Homo sapiens: one gene and its partners. The protein of the gene in region 1 purifies or fractionates together with the protein of each later gene. This does not show direct contact. Each region holds a gene or a part of one and is shown in the gene's direction. Other genes may lie near its edges.

Region 1 (4,526 bases):
CAGTGGGGAAGGAGTCCCAAGAGTGCTTTATGCAGGGAAGATGGCAATGGGGCACATGGGTTGGTTCAGTATTTGCTCTTCCACACTTAGCTCATTCCTGATCAGAAAAGGTCTGCCCCATTGTCAGATTTACTAGATTAGTAAACAGAGAGCATCTGTTATTTGAGTTAACATCTCCTCCTGACATCCTATCTCTCCCTCTCCCCGTGGCCTTGTCAGTCACCTGGCAGTTCTAGGACAAAGGTGCCTCCTGTTCCCACTCTAGGTAGCTGTCCAGCCTAGAGGCTGTCTTGCCCTGCTTCTCTTTCCTCTTAGGACTATCCTGCGTATCTATACTACATTCCCCGCCCCCCCACCTTTTTTTTTTCCTTTCACTGATCACAGCTCAAAGTCTGCCTTAGGCATTCTCCTGCATACTTAGGTGTGTATATCCTTTCCCCCTCTTTGTAGGGGACTCTGGATAGTACTTTGGGCTGCAAAACTAGTTTTCCATTCCCTTCTGGTAGCATGCTGCATCCTGCCTCCCTTCACTCAGCCACAGAAGTCAGCATGTGACCCAGGCCTAGATATGCATTTCCCTGGGCACAGACATTGGTCCAGAGGTGGGCAGGTGACCCAAACTGAGATCCTTCCCCAGGGTTTCTTGATTTGGAGCTGAGGGAGAATAGCCTTGCCTATGGGTTCCAGAGTTGGGAAGATATGAAGTTAGGGCTGAGGCATCTAAAGCCCCTGGCATACGTGGAGAAAGTCCATAAGTAAAAGTGAAGAATACAACAAAGCAAAAATAAATGGAGATGAGACTTGGGTGAGAGAAAGAGGCTGGCACAAGAGAATCTTGGTTCTGGTTGCTCGGGCCCCAGTTCCTGCAGCTGCTTTTTTGATGCCATGAACTGTCCGATATCCTAGAATGAAAACTTTAAATGCTGCTTATAATCCATTAAATATTTGTTGTTCGGATGGACTGGGGTATGCTGCAGGAACAACTCCCAAATCCCAGTGGCTCAAGAAAACAAAGGTTTATTTCTTGCTTTCTGCTGCCTGTTACTGTGGGTTGGCAGGGGTACTCTGCTCATCGCATTCACTGAGAGTCCCAGGCTGACTGGATTTCCTTTGTCTTATCGTTATAAGACATCAGGATTCTGGCTGGGCACGGTGGCTGACCGTGTAATCCCAGCACTTTGGGAGGCAGAGGTGGACAGATCACTTGAGCCCAGGAATTTGAGACCAGCCTGGGCAACATGGCAAAACCCCATCTCTACAAAAAAAATACAAAAATTAGCTGGGCATGGTGGTGTGCACCTGTGGTCCCAGCTACTTGGAGGATGAGGTGGGAGGATCACTTGAGCCTGGGAGCTGGAGGTTGCAGTGAGCCGAGATCATGCCACTGCACTGAGCCTGAGCAACAGAGTGAGACCCTGTCTTAACACACACACACACACACACACACACACACACACACACACACACACACCAGGATTCACTGTGGTAGGGAGAGTCACATACTAGCTCATAAGTACCTGCACCTGGAGATGATAACATGCCATTTCTGCTCACATGTCATTGGCCAAACCTGAATTCAAGTGGTTACACTCCTCACTAAAGAACAGCCCTAATGACCAGCATATATGTTGAATGAATGACTCCTAACCAGCTTTGCAAACCTAGAAATGTCCTTGGCATAATATGGTATTGTGCAACTGGGAGAATCCTGACATACTCCTTCAATCTCTACACTAGAAATATCTTTCTCACTTCCCTTTTAGTCCCTTTATTCTGTTCGTGAGTCAAGAAAGGAGGTCTTAAGTCTGAGGAGAAATTAGCAATTACAAAGAACCGATGCCATTCCATAGCTAAAGCCTTGGAAGGTGCCCTCTGGCTTTCACTACACTCTCCATACATGTCTCTACCTTTCTCCATGAAGCCTCTCCTAGGTCCCCTAACCAAGAAAGATTTCTGTCCTCTGGGTCTCCAGAGTGGCATTGTCACTTTGTTCCTGGTGCTATAGTGGTCTGTGCGTTGATATCCCCTTACAGACCACATCTGCTTCGTCTCCCTTATAGTTTCTCATATGCAGTAGGTGCCCAGCGAGTGCGTGTTGGGTGGTGAATGAGTCAGGACCTCACTCCTCAGAGTGTGGTCTGTGCACCAGCAGCATTGGCATTACTGGAATAGTTAGGAATGCAGAGTCCCAGGCCTGGTGAATCTGCATTTTAACAAGATCCCCATAAAGCCTGAGAAGGGCTGAGTCAGGAGACAGGGTGCCATCATGTCCCCTGTGAATTGAAAAGAGATGGACTTGCCTGAGGTTTTCATTATTGTCTGTGGACCTTGGACCTGGGATTCAATTGCAAGCCACCATTTGTGCTAGACTGTCATTCATGCTTTCTGGTTCTGAGAGGTTCTGACCCCAAGTTTTTATGATGAGTTCTAAATAGCATATCTAGACTCTGTCAACCCAGTGCCCAGCCAAGAACCTTTTGATATGGACAGGAGGCAGGGAAACACTGGATAGAAGAGGGCAGTTCCCTGGCAAAGGCCCCACCCTCAAGCCTGGAAACTGCGGCCCTAAATGAGAACAGTTATCCCTGTTTTCCTGCCCAAATATTGCTTTTTCCAAAACCACTCTGGCTCGCCACACCCCGCATCCTGTATCCATAAAAACCCCAAACTCCACTGGCAGAGAAGCAGAGTGGCATGGCAGAGGAGAGAAGAGAAGCATCTGAACGTTGAGAGGAGTTTGGCCAGGGATGGCCGCACTCCAGGGGAAGATTATCTTCCCACTGTATCCCCTTTCCAGCTCCCCATCTCACTGAGAACCACCTCCATCACTCAATAAAATCTCTGCATTCACCATCCTTCAAGTCTGTGTGACCTGATTCTTCCAGGATGCCGGGTTCTTCCTGGAACCCGGGTACCAAGAGGGCAGGGTATAAAAGACTGTCACCCTGACTCTCCACTGAGCTGGTTAACAGCCATCTGCAGACGGCAACTGCTAAAACAGCATTAATTGTAACACACCCCTAGACGCTGCCACGGGACCAGAGCCCAAAAGTGCTCACCCCAGCCCTGGCACCTGCTCACCTGCATGCTTCCCCTCCTGCAAGGGGTTTGAGCACTGCAGGCCGAGTAAGCAAGCCACACCCCTGTCACAAGTCCCACAGAGGGGTCAAGGCAGCCCTCCTGTCTCACTTTCTTTTTTTTCTTTTTTAAGATGGATTCTTACTCTGTCGCCAGGCTGGAGTGCAGTGGCACCATCTTGGCTCACTGCAGTCTCCACCTCCTGGGTTCAAGCAATTCCCCTGCCTCAGCCTCCCGAGTAGCCGGGACTACAGGTGCCCGCCACCACGCCCAGCTAATTTTTTGTATTTTAGTAGAGACGGGGTTTCACCATGTTGGCCAGGATGGTCTCGATCTCCTGACCTCGTGATTCCTCACCTTGGCCTCCCAAAGTGCTGGAATTACAGGCATGAGCCACTGGGCCTGGCCTCCTTTCTTACTTTCACAGATTGGCTGCCTAATTGTGATCAGTGTAAAATTTAGTCTTGTCACAACTAGGGCTTAGACTGCCAAAGCTATGCCTGTGAGACAGAATATTGGGCTGAGTGGGTCACGCTGCTCAGAGGAGAGGGAATACAACCCACCTTGAGAAAGAGGCTAGTGAGCCTGGCCAGCTGATGCTGGAGATTCACGTTGGATTTCCAAGAACATGCAAGGACTTTTTCTCATGAGCACCTGAAGCTGAGAACCACGAGTCCACACGTGCCCCTCCTGAGGGAGTTGCAGGATCCAGCAGGATCTGTGCACACTTCAGGCTGCGTGTTGTGGAATCCAGGCTCTCAGCAAGTTCTCCTAGCTCTGCCTTCAAAATACTCGCCTGTCTACCCATGACTCCCACCTCCACCACTGCCACCCTGCTCCAACCAAATACTGTTGCTCTCCTGGACCATTGAAAACCCTCCTGACTGTTTTCTCTGCTTCTATTCCTGTCCCTCCGGTGATCTCATTAAAATGTAAGATAGGGCCAGGCACGGTGGCTCATGCCTGTAATCCCAGCACTTTGGGAGGCCGAGGCGGGCAGATCATGAGATCAGGAGATCCAGACCATCCTGGCTAACACGGTGAAATCCCGTCTGCACTAAAAATACAAAAAATTAGCCGGATGTGGAGGCGGGTGCCTGTAGTCCCAGCTACTCAGGAGGCTGAGGCAGGAGAATGGCGTGAACCTGGGAGGCAGAGCTTGCAGTGAGCCGAGATCACGCCACTGTACTCCAGCCTGGGCGGCAGAGCGAGGCCCCATCTCCAAAAAAAAAAAAAAAAGTAAGATAGACCATCTTTCCCCTGCTGTTTAAAAACTGCTCCATCTCACTAAGAGTAAAACTCAAAGTCCTTACCATTGTCAACAACACTCACCAAGGTCTGGCTCCTGCCCACGCTCTGACCTTACCTTGCAGTGGCCTCCCCTCTCTCACTCAGCTGCAGCCTCCTCACTATTCTTAGAAGGTGGCAAGCTTGTCCCATCCAGCACC
Region 2 (4,526 bases), on another chromosome or scaffold:
AGCTGCCACCCATCCCCTGGGGTGCAGCCACCTGGAGTTGCTACCACATCTCTGTGTGATCCCAGAATACCCCTCTGTTGTCTGGCTTCTAAAGCGCTGAGGCAGTCTGGAGAGGCACTGAGTCGCAGAGGCCCGAGTCTGTACATATGTTTGGGTGATTGCTGTATTTGTTTTCCTCCCTGTGGTAGAGTTATTTATTACAGAAGCCATGATTTATTGAGCATTTACTACATTTAATCTCTGTAGCTGTCTGGGGCAGGTGGTGGTATCTAAGTTTTGTTTAAGAGGCTTAAGTTAGGTGACTCGCTCAGAGTTAGGAGGGTGACTCTTTCCTGTAGTGAAGGGAAGAGAGGCCAGCCAGCTGCAGAAGTGGGTACCCCTAAAGTGCCACTCACGGTGTCTCATTTTTGCCTCCTACCTTGTTCTCCATTCCCTGGGTAGTTGTGTCTGAGTACAGGGCATCTCTGCAGCAGAGGATGAACCCAAAGCAGGAAGAGCATGCCTTTGAGAGTCCTCCACCACCAGATGTTGGGGGGAAGGATGGTCTGATGGACAGCACGCCTGCCCTCACACCCACGGAGGTAAGTGCCACTGTCAGGGCAGAGCCTGCTGTGGCCGCTTGTGGGCCCCCCTGTTATCAGCTTGTTTTTGGCTCCTGGGCTGGCCTCTGTTGTAGTTCCTGCTATTTCCCAGGCCTTAACTCCCCTGAAGTGTTCAATAATAATAATTGTAATAAAAACAGCTACTCCATGCTTCACTGAGTGCTTACCCTGTGTCAGATGCTGCTCCAAGTGCTTTATAGATAGATATTCACATCATGGAGTGCAGGTTCTTTCTTTCCTTTTCTTTTTTTTTTTTCCTTTTTTTTTGAGATAAGGCCTCCCTCTGTCACCCAGGCTAGAGGGCAGTGGGGCAATCACAGCTCACTACAACCTCCATCTCCTGGGCTCAGGCAGTCCTCCCACCTCAGCCTCTTGGGTAGCTGGGACTGCAGGCAGGTGCCACCACGCCCAGCTAATTTTTTTGTATTTTTAGTAAAGATGAGGTTTTGCCATGTTGCCCAGGCTGGTCTCAAACTCCTGGGCTCAAGTGATGTGCCTGCCTCGGCCTCCCAAAGTGCTGGGATTACAGGCGTGAGCCACTGCACCAGGCTGGTTATTTCTGAGAAAGAGATCATTCTCATTTGTGGAAGAGAAGGCTGAGGCACAGAGTGGCTGGTAAGTGGCAGGGCTGGGTCTAAGACCCCAGCCCTGTGGTTCTAGAGCTCGTGCCTTCAACCACTGTGCGATGTGGCCACTGTAGGGCCAGCTGTGCTCGTGTTTCCATCTCCCCCGCCCTGCCAGGCTAGAGGTTGCTCCTTCCTGTGAGTTCCTTCTTTCTTGCCATTGTGCCATTTCGTGGTGTTTTGGGTAGCCTGGATGCTGGCTTGGGGAGGTGGTCCTCTGCCTTAGGGAGCAGCGCTGCCATCCTTCTCCTTCTGTCATAGAGTCTCTCTTCCCAGGACCTCACACCGGGCAGCGTGGAGGAGGCTGAGGAGGCTGAGCCAGATGAAGAGTTTAAAGATGCGATTGAGGTGGGTGGCCCTTCCCCAGCATCCTCTACTCAGCAGGCCAGAAATTGGGTGGTCCTGGAGCTGTTTTTTGTTTTTGTTTTTTAATGTCCAAGTGAGAAGCTAAAACTTGCTGTGAGCTAGAACTCACTGGTTGAAAGAGTGCCACTGAACCCCTCCCCACTCCTGTTTCTGGTTGAGCCAGCTGTCCTGGGTGCCCAGGGCAAGAGTGGCTCTGGAAGTCTCCGGGTAATGCCCTGCTAGGGGAGCTGGACGATTTCTGGCCTTTGCTGGAGACCGTGGGCTTGGTGCCTTTGATATAGGAAAGGCAGCTTTTGAGGAGGCTACTGCCCTGGGTCTCCGCTCTTCTGCAGAGTGAGTTCCGTAAGATGTCCCTTTGCGGGGCTGGGAGGGGAGGTTGGAGAAAGTAGTTGCATGGCCAAGTGCTAGGTCAGAGGAAGTTAAACAGCTTTCTTGATTTTAGGATGGTAATTCAAATTGGTAGTTTGCAGAAGTGTTTTATTTGGCATGCAAAGTTTCAAAATAATTTTTTGAGCCAATGTTTAAATATGGAGAGATTTTTATTAGAACTGCAGGTTTCCAGTTTCTCTGGTAGTCCTGAGTCTGCAGCAGTAGGTGTAGCTAAGGAGCTGCTGTCCCCTTTACGCAGGTCACATGCTGTGGCTACAGGTGGTCCTCAACACCCCCTGCTGTATTTTGTCACTGAGGTCAAGTGGGAGTTGCCATTTGTCACATTTGCGTTTTTGTTTTTCTTAGAGTAGGATATCATTTCTCTTTATTTATTTCTCTTTGTAAAGTGGGAAATTGAGATATAAGAAAAACACCTCGTGGATTTCCACCAGGCCTGTGATTTACCCCAACTCACCTCAATCATACATCAGCCCAGGCCATGCAGGCATTTGACTTTCTGATGGCTAAAAGATTGCTCCAAAACTTTGATATATGATTGTAGACCGTGAATCTTGGTGGAGGGAATATGTAGAGCAGGGGTTTTCAAGCATTTTTGTTCATGACCCATAGTAAGGAACACATTTTGCATCTTGACCCAGGTCACACTTAGGTCTATAAAATATGTAAAACTTAAGTGAAACAAAAGTTTCCGGAAAATACGTTGTAAGGGATATTTTCTTTCCTTTTCTGTTCTATTCAAATAAAGACCTACTAAATTATTTTCACCCAGTTTGAGAAACTGTAGTACCTAGCTTTCTCCAAGGCTGTTTGATGCTGGGATCCTCTTGTGGGGGGCGTCTGTCAATGTCACCATTTGGGAAGTGCGCAGAGCTCAGAGCAGCGCTTCCATGCTTCCTTCTGCTTGGGGGCCCCTCCAGGTAGCTTCTTTCTTCTTGCTATCTTTTTCTTTCTGTTTTCTCTCCTCTTCCCCGCACCTTGGGAGGCAGGAGACCCACTTGGTGGTGCTGGTAAGTGGAAGCCTTGGTGGGTGGGCAGGGGCTGGGCTGGGGAGGGTGGCTGAACCGGCTGCTGCCACACCTCGTGGGGGCTGCCGCGCAGGATGCCTCTGCACACGGGTCCTGCAGCCTTGCAAGAGGTGGGCAGGACTGGAAGGAGCTGTTCCCACAGGAGGATGATGAGGGCGCCCCGTGCCCAGCAGAGGATGAGCTGGCCCTGCAGGACAACGGGTTCCTGAGCAAGAATGAGGTGCTGCGCAGCAAGGTGTCTCGGCTCACGGAGCGGCTCCGCAAGCGCTACCCCACCAACAACTTCGGTGCGGCCAGGGGACAGGGCTGGGCTGGTGGGGGAGTGGGGGTGGACTTCTGGGACTCTAGTGGGGAACACCCAGCCACAGGGGCAGAGTCTCAGAACTGTGGGTACTGACTTGTGACAAGAGCAGGGAGTGAAGGTGTGTCCGCGGGACCCCGGGGAGCTAGCAGATGCCCGGCAGGACTGCTGAGGGAGTGGGTGTGGGTTCCTTCTTGTCCCTCCATCCTGATTGGACATTCAGTTGTGGGAAGACAAGGAACTCAGTTTGGGAAATGCCATCCCAGGACTGTAGAGAACCATAATCCTGACAGAACTTCAGAAGGCAGTGTAGCATGATGGTGAGGAACAGAGTAGAGTCTCACTGCCTGCTGCAAATCCCAGCTCAGCCAGGTGTCCTTGAGCAAATTATTTCACACCCCGTGCCTCAGTTTCCCCTTCTGTAAAAGGGGGATCATCATTCTTACCTCATAGGGTTGTTACAGGTCTCATGTCAAATGAGACAGTAGTACTTACGAAGGGCTAGCACAGTGCTGGTTGGTTCATAGTAAGTAGTGGGTGCGGTTAATGTGGGAGGCCCTGACCCACGCTGTGGGTTCCTAGGATCCTGTCTTGGTCTTTCTTATCCAGCTGGAAGCAAGTTGAAGCAAACATTGTTTCTCTGGACGTGATAGAGCCCTGAGTTCACCTCTCCCCAGCCAGTCCTTATTTTACTGAGGGTCGGGGGAGAGCGGTCAAGGAAGGCAGCTTTGGAGAAGGGTGGACTTGACAGCACAGCTTAGAGACCTGGCTCAGATCAGCAGCGCTGAGAGCTGAGCCACATACAATTATGGTGGAAACCTAGAGTAGCTAGGTTGACCTGGGAGCTGCTGTGCTCCTGAGGAAGGGCCCTCCTGCCTGCTGTCAGATGGGAGCAGGGTAAGGGGGCAGTACTGTGTGTTCTGGTGTTGAGTGAGTTCTAGGGTCTGTGCCCTGGAAGAAGACAATGGAGTTTATCTTGAGGAATTTGACTCAGGGCCCCCAGGGTCCTGCCTTCCTACCCCTGCAGCAGCCAGGGCAGTTGTTTTCTCAGGATTAGATGTCCTGGACAGGCTCTTTCTTTCTGCTGTGTGAATGTCCCCCAGTTATTCAAGATCCCTTTTTTTTTTTTTTTTTGAGACAAGGTCTCACTGTGTCTCCCAGGCTGGAGTGCAGTGGCATGATCACAGCTCACTGCATCCTCGACTTCCTGGGCTCAAGT
Region 3 (4,526 bases), on another chromosome or scaffold:
TCTAACTCATCTCATCTCTATAACAACTCTAGGTATTATGACTTGTGTTTTATAGTTTAGGAAACTGAGGTTCGGAGTAGTTAAGTAACTTATCCAAGGTCAAACAGCTTCTAGATGGCAAAACCTGGACAGGAGTTTATGACTGCCCAAATCCAAAGCTCTTAACTCTCTTTATTCTCTATCACACTATTTTCTAACTAAAATGTTAGTTTTTTCTCTCCAGAATCCAAACTGGCTGACTAGACTTGTTATTTTATTTTTAATCCAGTTCTTTGGATGGTTTATGGTTTCACTACTAACATACCATTCTGTATGTAAATGCCAGCTTCAGATTTCTTTTAGCTCCGTTACTGGTGATTCATGGTGATTGAATGGAGCTTTCCTTAGGGAATTGAGATTTTATTCTTTGGGCATAAAATTTCTCTTCCTTTTAAACTCTCATCTCTGAAAGTGAAAATTTTAGAAAGTAAATCCTCTTATTTGCCAGTAGCATTTGTTTTCAGTTATCTGGTCTATCTTCTAGAATTACTGTTAGTCAAGAAAGCTTTTTTTTTTTTTTTTTTTTTTTTTCAAATTTCCTCCTTCAAGATGCATGTTATATCTTCTGAATGGTGACTTACCCTTTCATTTTCATGAAACTTAACATCTGTCATAGTAATAATTCATTGCCTGTCGATATATCTATTTGGCCACTGAAAGGAAGGAGAAATGAAAAAGAAACTGACTCATAGGCTGAACCAAGAATAGAAGCACCGTTTAATATTCCAGTCATGCTTCATTGACCTAGTGCTGAACAGAAGTGTGGCTCAATCAAAAGGTCAAACAGAGGGTAGTTTATATTTTTAATCAAAGCTGAAAATACGGGTACATTTTACTTTGTAGAATAAACAGATGGCTGAAATATTATTTGAAAATATAAATGTAATTACATGTTTCAGTTGACTTATACTTTAAGGGCTGATTGGTCTTCAGTTTTTATTGACTTCCAGTTGGCAGGGACACCTAATGCTTTAAGAAAGCCCTGAGCCCTCTGTCAATTCATTTTAGTCAACAAATCTTTATTGAGCATCTGCTATGTGTGAGGCACTATTCTAAGTCCTGGAAAGAGAGCAGTGGTTACAGACAAAAATACCTACTCTCATAGGGTTTATATCTAATAGAGAATATAGATTATAAAATAAATAAATAAAAGACAAGGTGCCAAGCATGGTGGCTCATGCCTGTAATCCCACTACTTTGGGAGGCCAAGGCGGTCTGATCATTTGAGCCTAAGAGTTCGAGACCAGCCTGGGCAACATGGCAAAAACCCATCTCTACAAAAATTAGCGAGGAGTGCTGGCATGCACCTGTAGTCCCAACTACTCATGGAGGCTAAGGTGGGAGGATCATTTGGGCCTGGGAGGTAGAGGCTGTGGTGAGCTGAGATCATGCCACTGCACTCCAGTCTGGGGGACAGAGTAAGACCCTGTTTCAAAAAAAAAAAAAAGGCATATTAGACAGTGATAAGTGTTAAGGAGAAAAAGCAAGGAAGGAGGCTATGAGATATCAAGGAAAAGGTGAAGTTTAAAACAAGGTTTCCATCCAGGGAAGAGATCACTGAGGAGTTGACTTTTGGGTATAGACATGAAAGAAGTAAGAAAGCCAATTATGCAGGCATCTATAGAGGGGGAAAACGTTCTGGGTAAAGGGAATGGTAATTGCAAAGGCCTGGAGGCATGAGTGTGTTGAGGAAGAACTAAGAGGCTGGTTTGGCTAGAGAAGAGTAAATGAGAGTAGCAGGAGATGAGGTCAGAGAAGTGGGGAAGGAGACGGCAGATCATTTAGATTCTTCTGAGCTATTTGTAAAATATTGGGGTTTTACTGTGTGTGAAGTGGGAAGCAATTGTGCAGGGTTCTGAGCAGAGAGCTTCGATGTGATCTGGCTTACATTTAAATAGGACCATTTTGGCTGCTGCATTGAGAATAGACATGTGGTGTTAAGGGCAGAAGCAAAGAAACCAGTTAGGAGGTTTCAGTGATCTGACAAGACAGTAGTATCTTGGATCAAGATGATAGCACTGTATATTCTGGATATATTGTGAAGAAAGAGCTCATAGTCTTTGGAGTGAGAGAAAGGGAAGAGATGACTCCAAGGGTTTGGGCCTGAATAATCAGAAGAATGGAGTTGTCATGAATAAGACAAGGATACAAAAGGAGGGGCTGTTTGGGGGCCATATCAAGAACTCGCTTTTGTTCATAAGAGCAAGAATATAATACTGGTTGAGTATCCCTAATCTGAAATGCTTGGGACCAGAAGTGTTTCAGTTTGAAGATTTTTTTTTGGATTTTGGAATTAGTGGCTGAACCTCCCAAATCTGGAAATCTGAAATCTGAAATGCTTTAATGAGCATTTCCTTTGAATGTCATGTCAGTACTCAAAAAGCTTTGGATTTTGGAACATATTGGATTTTGGATTTTCAGATCTGAGATGCTCAACCTATAGTGGCTACCAGGGGCTGAGGGGTGGGGAAGATGAGGAGCTCTTGTTTAATGGGTATAAAGTTTCAGTTACATGGGATAAATCAGTTCTAGAGATCTGCTGTACAATGTAATGCCTATAGTTGATGATATTGTATTGTGCACTTCAAAATTTGTTAAGAGAGTAGATTTCATATTAAGTTTTCTTAATACGCACACAAAACAAACAAAAGGACACAAGGAAAGTATGGGAGGTGTTGGACATGTCTCCCTCCTTGGTTGTTGTGATTGTATCATGGGTATTTGCATACATCCAAACCCAGCACATTAATTATGTGATGGGTTATTACATATTTATTGCACATTTAATTCATCACATTAAATATGTACAATTCTTTGTATATCAGTTATACTTTGATACAGCTGTAGGAGGAAAAGGTACTCCGTTTTGGGCACTCTGAGTGCGAGATACCTTCAGGTATTCAATTGACCTTCAAGTAAGTACAGTCTAGAGCTCATTGGATGCTTATCATATGGCAGGAGGCACTTTTCTAGTGTTTTTTTTTTCACATGTAATTTCATGTAATCCTCAGCATCGTCAGAAATAGGTACTATTATTATCCTTCTTAGAGGAGGAAACAGGCCCAGAGAGGTTAAACTACTATTGCATTTTTACACAGCTAAGAAGAGGTGGGGCTCGGGTTTGAACCTGAGCTGTCTGACACCAGAGCACACATGGACTGCTTCTGTTGCAAACCTGTTGATGTGTTGGGTGAGCTCCTATTGAATGCTCTTGAATGAAGTTTATCTTTTAAAAGTTCACATGTTCATTTACCAGGATTTTATAGAGGGTGTGTTTCTAGCTCTGGCAGTCACACGCCCATGAATATCAGAGGCTCACCACCTCCAGGTGTACCTTTGTGGCTATAGGAAGGGTGGGGTTATTGCAAGTACTCCATTGGGCCGAGGGTGCTCTGCCCCCTTGTACAGTCTTGTTCTATACTGATCCATCTTGAGCTCTTCCTATTATCCTTATGCAAGCAGACATTTTCCATAAGGCACCAGGTTAGAGCTGGGAAAAATGGATCACCCAAAAACTGTGTTAACTCTGTTGAGCAACAGATTTTGTCCCCTGCATCTCAGTGAGTAGCGGAGATAAGAGGGTAGGGGATAGAGTCTTGCATCTCTGGGCGTATGGAGACATTGCTGCCAGACAGGCTGTTGGATTGGATGTGGTGCATGAGCCTGAGGAGAGCCCATCTCCTGTCTCAATGCCAGCTGTCCCTAGGGGTGGGAAGGAGGTGCCCAGGCCGACTACACCCTCCAGAGCTCCGCTCCTTGAGCAGAGGTGGCAGACCCACACATCCATCATCCAGCCCTAGTCTGTTCAGGAGCTCCTTCTCTGCAGCCAGCTTGGCTCCCAGGAAGGAAGACCAGCAGAACACTTAAACTTAATAACCCAGTAATGCAGTAAGTCCTACTTTGGGACAAGAGGAGGGACTTTGCTCTAACTCAGAACGTATACCTCCTTGAACGTGCCAAAATTCCTTTTTCCTTTATGACTGTTTAGTAAGTTAAAGTCCTTCATCTTTGCAGGTTCTTGCATTTGTCCCTATACCGACTTTATCACAGCTTGGTAAATGTGCCTTCCCTCTATGTTTGTGAGATGGCAGCACTGGTTTCAGGAAATCTGCTTGCTGTTATCTTAGTGTTTATAACTAAGGGATCCAAGTCAACTTTGTTGATTAAATGGACCAGGATGCATGGTTAAATAGGAACCCCATAATGAAATATCTACGGTTGATGTTTCTGAAAGATTGGGCATCCACTATGTTCTCGGGACACGCAGAAACACAGGGAAAAGAAAGCCAAGTTTGTGAACCATAAAAAACTTTTATTCTCATTCTTGGATATCTCCATTGTATCTAGAGCCATAGTATCCATCATAGAACCAGATATAACTCCTTCATAGACATGAGGTGTTTGGGGTGGTTGATGACCTTACTTTCTGCTCCTTAGTGGACAGACTTCCCTCCTATACGAGTCCTGCACAGACTTATCTGAACTCT
Region 4 (4,178 bases), on another chromosome or scaffold:
TGCACCTTTTTTTAGCCACATAAAATGTATTATTTAATATTATTTAACTTCAGCTTGTTTTTTTAACTATATTTATGTGGGGCATTAATATTTAACTGTAAAACATTTGTCACCAGGCAGCTGTGATTGCAAGTAGAGGAGTAATTTCAAACAAGAATGCTTAAAAGTTAGCTATGCCTTGATAAAATAGGTTTATCATTAATAGATTGCATTCCCATGACATGATAAGACCAGATCAAGGACAGACCTTACAGAATTGCAAACCCATTTGGGCAAGCTTTTTTTGTTTTGTTTTCTTTTTATATATATTTTTTAAAGCAGGGGCTTGTGTATTGTTTTTACCAAAAAGTTAGTGGTGACCAAAGCTAGGAAAATATGCAGTAGTGGAACTTTGAACCATGTCACAATATTAAAACAGGTCAGATTTTAGATCCTTTAAACAAACAATCAACAACAATAAAACACAGAAGTCTGGTGGTGTTGGATCCTAGACCAGAAGTACGGGCCATTAGGAATCAGTGAATTAGTTGGATTCCATACTACAGTCAGACAGAGATAGCTGCTGTTTGTTAAGCACAGGTTATTGGTCATAAGTGGATCATAACCAAAGAAATGTGGCTGGAGCACCCATATCCCTTATTTTTGCTGGAATGCAAAGCAAACAAATGCCCAACTGATGGAAATGCGATAGTAGCAATCTCATTTCTAGAAGACAGTTTTCATACAGTAAATTGCTATGAATGCAGTCTGCATGACTCTACAATTACTACAACACTAAATAAAAGTCTCTATCCTATGGCCTTATTATCCAAGGATATATATTATCCAAGGAATATATAACCTTACATATATTAATATATATAATATATATATATTATAAGATTTACTTAAGAAGTATTGGCCACATTCAGCCTCAACCAAATTTTGGGTCAATCAGAACTGCCTGGAGTTTCAGAAGCTAAACTATTTGTGATGTTGAGAACCCAACTTAAGTTTGATGTCGGAGGATCATTAGATTCTCTGCTCCAAAATGAGGGAACACAAGTAAACAAAAATAAAATCCAAATGAGTTAACAACACCCTATAAACTGAACTCCTCGAATGTGGGTAACTGCTTTGCTGAACAAGAAGATTCACTTTTGACATGTGCTAAATTCCCTTTTAGGACATGGAGATCTAAGGAGTCACGGAGATAGAAAATTTGTTAGCCTAAGGAAGAATAGAAAGTACATTGTATTCTGGCTGGGAGCAGTGGCTCTCGCCTGTAATCCCAGCACTTTGGGAGGCCAAGCTGGGCAGATCACTTGAGGTCAGGAGTTCAAGAACAGCCTGGCCAACATGGTGAAACTCTGTCTCTACTAAAAATACAAAAATTAGCCAAGCATAGTAGCAAGTGCCCATGATCCCAGCTACTCAGGGAGGCTGAGGCAGGAGAATCACTCGAACCCGGGAGGCGAAGGTTGCAGTGAGCCGAGATCACTTCACTGCTCTCCAGCCTGGGCAATAGAGTGAGAACCTGAAAAGAAAGAAGGAAGGGAAGGGAAGAGGAGGGGAGGGGAGAAGAAAGAGAGAAAGAAAGAGAGGGAGGGAGGGAGGGAGGGAGGGAGGAAGGAAGGAAGGGAGGGAGGGAGGGAGGGAGGAAGACAGAAAGAAAAAGAGAAAGAAGGAAAGAAAGAAAGAAAAGAAGAAAGAAAAAAGAAAAGAAAGGAAAGAAAGAAAGAAAGAGAAAGAAAAAGAAAGAAAGAGAAAGAAAGAAAGAAGGAAGGAATTCTAAGTGAAGTGGATTTGGTTAGGAAACTTTCTGATCTAAACTTCAGCCTTTTAATAGGCCAATTTGAGGTCATCTTGTTATAGTTATTTTCATTATATATTCTGCCTTCAAAATAGGTCTATTTATTATACATTATAATGACAGCATCATACAGGCATTTCAGGGGTACATAATAAATGTCAATCCTCATAGCCAGTTCTGAGAGATCTCCTGGTGTCACTTTAATTTGTAGCAACATGCCCAAGACCACATATCAAGTGAGAAATATAATAGAATAATAAGTCTAAAGTTGCCATCATTGAGGTTTCTATTCAGCTATTTATCTCTGAAACACTTAGTAATTAATTTTCTTATTATATAAAAGTGTTTCATGTATTTAGCACTTGAAATAAAACACAATTTGTGGAGACAGTCAATGTGAATAATTCTATATTCTAAAAATATATCAATCAATCAGAAAGCTGCCTAATATTTCCTTCATTTTGGGCTAAGTACAGCAGACCCTCATTTAAGTCATATTTTAATAGCAAACCAAGAAAATCAGCCTACTCCCTTATGCCCACCCAGGTAATAATAAAGCTTCCATTGAGGCTACCAGCAGTGCCTGAAAATCTCACAACTACTTTTGTGCTCAGAGGACATTACTACAACAGAGAACATTATTTAGAAAATTACATATAAAATTAACCATCCTGAGGACTATAAGGATATGCAGCTATGTTAGGAACAAGTGTATGAAAAATAACAATTTCAGGATAGACTAGTTTTCTTGTGTAAAAGTTCTAACATCATTTGCAGGGTTCTTTCAACTATACCATACAGCCCTTTTCAGTGTGTGTGATTACTGTGAAAAAATTAAAAAATATAAAACATAGTTAATAACATAAGGCATAAAAGAATGATAAATTTATGTTAGCTCAACCATTTACTAAGGGTCAAGGATGTCCTCACTGTTTAAAAAAACTTAAACGCTAGTAGGAAAGACAGAAATACAGCATCTATTTATAATACCTTTTGATACATGTGAAAATTAAGAAGTTTGTTTCAGTACTTTAGAAATACAATGAGGGAATATCCGATCTAGCCTGGTCCAGGAAAAGGGAAGAAGACTGAGGCAGCAGGAAAGGCTATCAGGAAGTAAACCCTCAGGGAAGTGTGAAGACTTAAGCAGGTTAATGTTAACTGGCAGAGACCAGGTAGATAAAGACATGGTTTTATTTATTTTTGTTTTACTGTTTCAGATAGCATGCCACCAGTAGAAAGAATATTAGTGTTTATTATCTACATGACTATATTTTTAGGCAACATATTTTTTGTGCATCTTATCACTTTAGTCCATTTGCATTACTATGAAGGAATACCTGAGACTAGGTTATTTATAAAGAAAAGAGGTTTATTTTTGCTCACAGTTCTGCGGGCTGTACAGGAAGCACAGTGCCAGCATCTACTTTAGGCAAGGACCTCAGGAAGCTTCCACTTATAGTGGAAGGAGAAGGAGGAGCAGGCACGTCACATGGCAAGAAAGGGAGCAAGAGAGAGAATGTGGAGGTCCCAGACTCTTTTAGTTAATCAGATCTCAAGCAAACTAACTGAGTGAGAACTCACGTTACCAAGAGGGTGGCAGGCACTAAGACATTCATGAGGGATCTACCCGCTGTGATCCAATTATCCCCACTCGGCCCCACCTCCAACACTGGGGACTACATTTCAAAATGAGAGTCAGGGGGACAAAAAACCCAAATCATTATCAGTGATCATTGTTCATTTATTTGTTTCAAACTCTCAACCAAATTTAAGTAAATGGGTCAGTATTTTATCTTTTCATACATGTACAAGACAGACCTTATTTGGTAACAGCAACAATCCTCACACATCTCTCTTCCTTCCTTCCAGGATTTTAATGCCTTTTGTAAAGACCTGCCTAATGGTTCTGCCTTCAGTGCAGACAATATGGAAGAGTGTGACAGATGTTATCATTGCTCCATTGTGTACGAGCGTAGGACGATGCTTCTCTTCTGTCAGCCTGCAACTGAGCCAGGATTGAATACTTGGACCCCAGGTCTGGAGATTGGGATACTGTAATACTTCTTTGTTATTATAACATAAAAGCACCACTGTTCTGTTCATTTCCTAGCTGTTCTAATTAAGAAAACTATTAAGATGAGCAACCACATTTAGAAATGTTTATTGACAGGTCTTTTCAAATAATGCTTTTCTAATTAATAGCCAAAGATTTCATATCTAACTTTGTAACCAGAATTATACAGTAAGTTGACACCACTTAGATTTAAAGGCAGACAGTTTTGCTTTAGTACAATAGTATACATTTTATAATGATGAACTTATAATGATTAAGGGACATTTCTATAAAAATACTACAATAGTTTTATGCACAACTTCCCATTAA
Region 5 (4,526 bases), on another chromosome or scaffold:
TTTTCTGATATATCTGTTAAAGTACTCTTCGCATATTTTTAAAAAATTGGCATTTTAAAGTATAGTCTTTGATGGTAGAAATGTGAGATTGACAAAAATCATGTCCTCTTATGTATGAATTTAGTCTTACACAGTTCTTCATATGATGGAATCTAAAACAAATGTAGTCTTGAAAACTTTTAGTCTACTTTGGTTACATGTGTTTATTATTGCTCACCTTATAGATTAACAGCAGAAAAGTATAAATTTTAATATTTCTACCTTTCTGGCTTGAGGTCTACAGCATTAATTTCTGACCAGTTAATGCAAACTGAGATTCCTATTGTCCTAAGAAAATCTGGGAAGTTAGTAACACAAACACATCTTTTGATTTATTTCAGGACCACATAAACCCATTTTGAATTATTCAACCATTGCTGAACTTCTTGAGTATGTATAATTAAGAGTTGACTATAATTGGAATGTTCTTAAGACTTTAAGTTGATTATAAAATTTTGTGCTTAAAGTTGGCAATAATCAAAACAAAACAAACAAACAAAAAAAACCCTTTATTTTAAAACACAGTCTTGCTCTGTCACCCAGGCTGGAATGCAGTGATGACATCATACTTCATTAGACCGTCAATATTCCAGGCTCAAGCAATCCTCCCACCTCAACCTCCCGAGTAGTTGGGACTACAAGCGCATGCCACCATGCTTGGCTAATTTTTTTTTAGTAGAGACAGTGTCTGTCCATGTTGCCCAGGCTGATCTCAAACTTCTGGACTCAAGTGATCCTCCTGCCTCAGCTTCCCAAAATACTGGCATTATAGGCATAAGCCACCATCCCTGGCCAAAAAATAATTCTGAAACAGCAAGGAGGAAGGCGGTTTCTTCTTGGGAAGTCTTGATTTTAGTTGAGCATGTAGAGGGATCACTTGACTTATTAACCACTTAGGATTGCACAGTAAGATAATTTAAAGGGTAGCCAGCACTGGAGTGGGCCTGGGAAGGGGATGGGCAGTTTGTGTTAGTGTGTGTGGGTCCAAGATAAAAATGTTGGGTAGCAGAGTTTTGCCTAATGCATTGTCGCTAAAAGGGATGAAGGGCATCGGGATCTACAGGAGATGGAAAAAGTAGTGACAGGATAGTAGTGGGAAAAACTAGGATCGGATCAAGGCACTGGAAGGCAGAAATATTGAGTAGAATGTTTGCTGCAATTTATGTTTCTGTATAAATACCGAGTACAAAGTTTCACTTGGGTGGTCAAGGTGCTATGGCTGTGACAACTCCTGAGAGTGGGTTTTCTGGTTAAAAAAAAAAAAAAATCTCTGAATGCACGGAGTCGTCTCAGGCCTTCTCAAATTTGCAAAGAACAGGTCCACAAGACCTACATTTCCCAAGATAATTGCAGTAGTGTGACCTGATAATTAACATTTTTTGCTTTCCTGCTGGAACATTCCTGGGGCCCAGAGACTGGGCCAAGCATTTCCAGTCCAAAGACTGGGAACTGAACCAAGCATTTCCTTTAGATTGTTCAAGTTGTGAAGGTTGATGTTATTAGCTTGGTTACTACTTGGAGTCTTAGCTCATAGTGTGTCTTTATGGCTTTCTGCCTCACTGGACCCTCTTCCCAAAAGGCTTTAGAATGTGTTCACCATCATGAGCTGACCAACAATTTCTAAATTCCTACTCAGAAACACAGCAAGGGGAATGCAGTCAAGCACAAAGGGCTTAAATGACCAGATAAGGCTGGGCTGGATGAATAAAGAGGAATATCCTATGAATGTGACTGTGTAGTTTTAGAGTATCCCGATTCAACTGTTATATTTGACTTGTGGCCTTGTAGACAGTGTGTTAATGTCAGATCTTCTTTTTCAGAACTGTTTTAATCATGGACAAACAAAGTAAGTAATTTATTTTAAATGTTTACTTTCCTCCTTATAATGTTAATCTGTTGGTAACTTGTTATTTGTCATAATGTTTTATTCAGTGTCTGAAAGTGTATAATTTGTTTTCTGTTGTTTATGCTCCAGAATACAATGTCTAGTTCAGTATTTTGACTATAGAGAAGATGTACAAAAATAGCACTATCACTAGGTTCTTCATTAAAAATACGAAAGCCTTTTGGAAAGCTAAGAAATGCTAGATTTATTGGGAAATATGTTCTGTAACATATATTTAAACCACAACAATATTCTCTTTGTGTATTTTATATGTATAAAGATTATTCAAGTCATACTAATTAACAGATAATAAGATTTGAGTTCATTGTAATAAACTCCTCAGATACACACCTCAATGTATATTTCATCACAGACACATGTTTGTATTTTAAGTAAATACCAGTCATTATGTTCTGGCTTTTTTTCTCTCAAGAAAATTCTAAGTAAGATGGATATTTATCAAGCAAGTAATAAAAGACTGTCTTATTAAGATATCAAGGTTCTGAAGAACAGAGGGAAAATTATGTTCAAAATTCCCACTACATAGGGAAAATTAAATTCAAAAATTAAATCCTGTTTTTCTGAAACGCTTTTCTTTATTCTCTCTTTCATCTTTGTTGAGGTAACAAAAAAATATTTATCTGTCACTACAGTGTCACCCTTATTAGATATATGAAATAATCTCCAGGACTAGACTCCTTGCTTTTCCCATGTGAAGTTTTATGATTTTCTTTTTACTTACAAAACTCAAAGCTTTTTAAATGTAAATTTATATAGAATTATACTGGTTTATTTGCCACAGACTTTAAGTTGATTCCACTCAATTTACAAAAATGTATCTGGTGATGGTCATAGGCAACTTTTAACTCTTCAGTTTTGTATATATAATTGTATGTATGTATGAATGTATTTGCATAAATAGAAATAAAATGTGTATATGTGTGTGAATAAATGTGTAAATATGTATATATACATACATGTAGACATAAAAAAAAGTACCTTTAAGACAATGTGATAGACTTGTACTTCTTATAAGCCATTTTAAGTTGCATTTCAAAAACGCAGTAATCAAACCATAATTAACATGCTCTTTGTTCTGCTTGAACACCTGCCCATTCACTCATTCTCCTTGTATGAATTCCCCCTGGAATGCCTGAAATCAGAATCATTGCTTTGGTACCAAAAGCCCAGAGATTGTGAGCTCATGATTTCTTGAGTCTGTCTGTTCCTGTATATGTGTGTGTGTGTGTGTTCTATGTTATAGTATTCAAACAATGTTGCTTATTAAGAGGTATCACAATGTGACATACCTGTCAAGGGTAGATCTTTACTTCAGACTTGCAAAATATTTTCTTGAAATCTATTCTGAGTCTGATGCTGTGTTTCCAACTTAATTTGGGAGTAGGGGCTGCAGGCAGGGCCTTATTAGCTAGAGAACTAGGGAGTTAGGTCAGTCACTTGATGCTGAGAAATAGAAGAGAATGGATGGGAAAGAATGATGGGGAGTTTCAGAGATTTGTGATGATTCACAAATCACAAGGTATGTTGCAATGTTTGTCCAGGGAAAAGTCCTCATTTGTTTTTTGTTGTTGTTTTGTGTTATTTATTTATTTATTTATTTATTTGAGATGGAGTCTCGCTCTGTCGCCCAGGCTGGAGTGCAGTGGCACGATCTCGGCTCACTGCAACCTCCGCCTCCCGGGTTTAAGTGATTCTCCTGCCTCAGCCTCCTGAGTTGCTGGGACTACAGGCGCGTGCCACCATGCCTGGCTAATTTTTGTATTTTTAGTAGAGATGGGGTTTCATTTTGTTGGCCAGGCTAGTCTTGAACGAGTAGGAGAGCGGTTTTTTTGCCTGATTTTACACAATCACCATGGACTGGATTCCGCTGAAGTCATCATGAAGCTATTTATGAAGGAGAAAGGCCGGGGCAGGGGGTGGGGGAAACAATCCAATCTTCCTGATAAAACCACACGATTCACAAGTTGAGTGGTCTTTGAAAGTTCATAATAGAGACACATACAGAAAAATGTGTTACAGTGAAAGTTTGACCTATATGTTCTTCTATATTGATGCCATGTCTCCATGATTCTAAAACAAAAGACTTTGAATTTACAGTTAGTAATTCATAAGGAAACAGATAAGGAGATAAGTGTAGTGTCTACTGCACCTTAAGCTGTATGAAAGCAGAGCCATTGTAGCCACAGAGCCTAATTCAAGGGTGACACAGGACATGCTCAGTAAATATTTAGAGACTGGCTGCGGTAGGTAACCGAATGACTAGATAGACATGAATATTAATATTTAGGAGGTTGAACCATTTGTGCATATATTAAGTTTACTCAAGCCTTATTAGCAAATAACAAAGTTTAATATGCTAGTGTATTGTAATTAAACATGGCTTTTGTGGGTCAAAAACAGTCATATTTGGGGAATTTCATATGGTTCAACTTCATTGGTGTAGTTCCAGAGTAAGCATAACATATATAAATACTGAAGTATATTCATTATTTTAAATATTTAAAATAATACTTACAGCAATGATGATAGATATCTTTAAAATCATCCATAATTCTACCATCTTCACATCCCATTAATTTCA

What was found.
Region 2: the proteins of REEP1 (region 1) and ZFYVE27 purify together in Homo sapiens (co-immunoprecipitation; one study listed by IntAct). This does not show direct contact.
Region 3: the proteins of REEP1 (region 1) and ENDOD1 purify together in Homo sapiens (affinity purification with mass spectrometry; one large-scale study listed by BioGRID and IntAct). This does not show direct contact.
Region 4: the proteins of REEP1 (region 1) and CAV2 purify together in Homo sapiens (affinity purification with mass spectrometry; one large-scale study listed by BioGRID and IntAct). This does not show direct contact.
Region 5: the proteins of REEP1 (region 1) and PLSCR1 purify together in Homo sapiens (affinity purification with mass spectrometry; 2 studies listed by BioGRID and IntAct, with this or other methods). This does not show direct contact.

What each region holds. Positions count from the first base shown.
Region 1 is NC_000002.12:86,327,360-86,331,885, reverse strand, and holds part of REEP1 (receptor expression-enhancing protein 1), read left to right. Parts: intron 1-4,526.
Region 2 is NC_000010.11:97,749,890-97,754,415, forward strand, and holds part of ZFYVE27 (protrudin), read left to right. Parts: intron 1-441; coding exon 442-581; intron 582-1,486; coding exon of another isoform or gene 1,487-1,501; coding exon 1,502-1,573; intron 1,574-2,967; coding exon 2,968-2,988; intron 2,989-3,148; coding exon 3,149-3,293; intron 3,294-4,526. UniProt on the Homo sapiens protein: Key regulator of RAB11-dependent vesicular trafficking during neurite extension through polarized membrane transport. Promotes axonal elongation and contributes to the establishment of neuronal cell polarity.
Region 3 is NC_000011.10:95,095,683-95,100,208, forward strand, and holds part of ENDOD1 (endonuclease domain-containing 1 protein precursor), read left to right. Parts: intron 1-4,526. UniProt on the Homo sapiens protein: May act as a DNase and a RNase. Plays a role in the modulation of innate immune signaling through the cGAS-STING pathway by interacting with RNF26.
Region 4 is NC_000007.14:116,502,307-116,506,484, forward strand, and holds part of CAV2 (caveolin-2), read left to right. Parts: intron 1-3,664; coding exon 3,665-3,815; coding exon of another isoform or gene 3,816-3,853; 3' UTR 3,854-4,178. UniProt on the Homo sapiens protein: May act as a scaffolding protein within caveolar membranes. Interacts directly with G-protein alpha subunits and can functionally regulate their activity.
Region 5 is NC_000003.12:146,533,899-146,538,424, reverse strand, and holds part of PLSCR1 (phospholipid scramblase 1), read left to right. Parts: intron 1-380; exon of another isoform or gene 381-429; intron 430-1,859; coding exon of another isoform or gene 1,860-1,872; coding exon 1,873-1,885; intron 1,886-4,526. UniProt on the Homo sapiens protein: Catalyzes calcium-induced ATP-independent rapid bidirectional and non-specific movement of phospholipids (lipid scrambling or lipid flip-flop) between the inner and outer leaflet of the plasma membrane resulting in collapse of the phospholipid asymmetry which leads to phosphatidylserine externalization on the cell surface.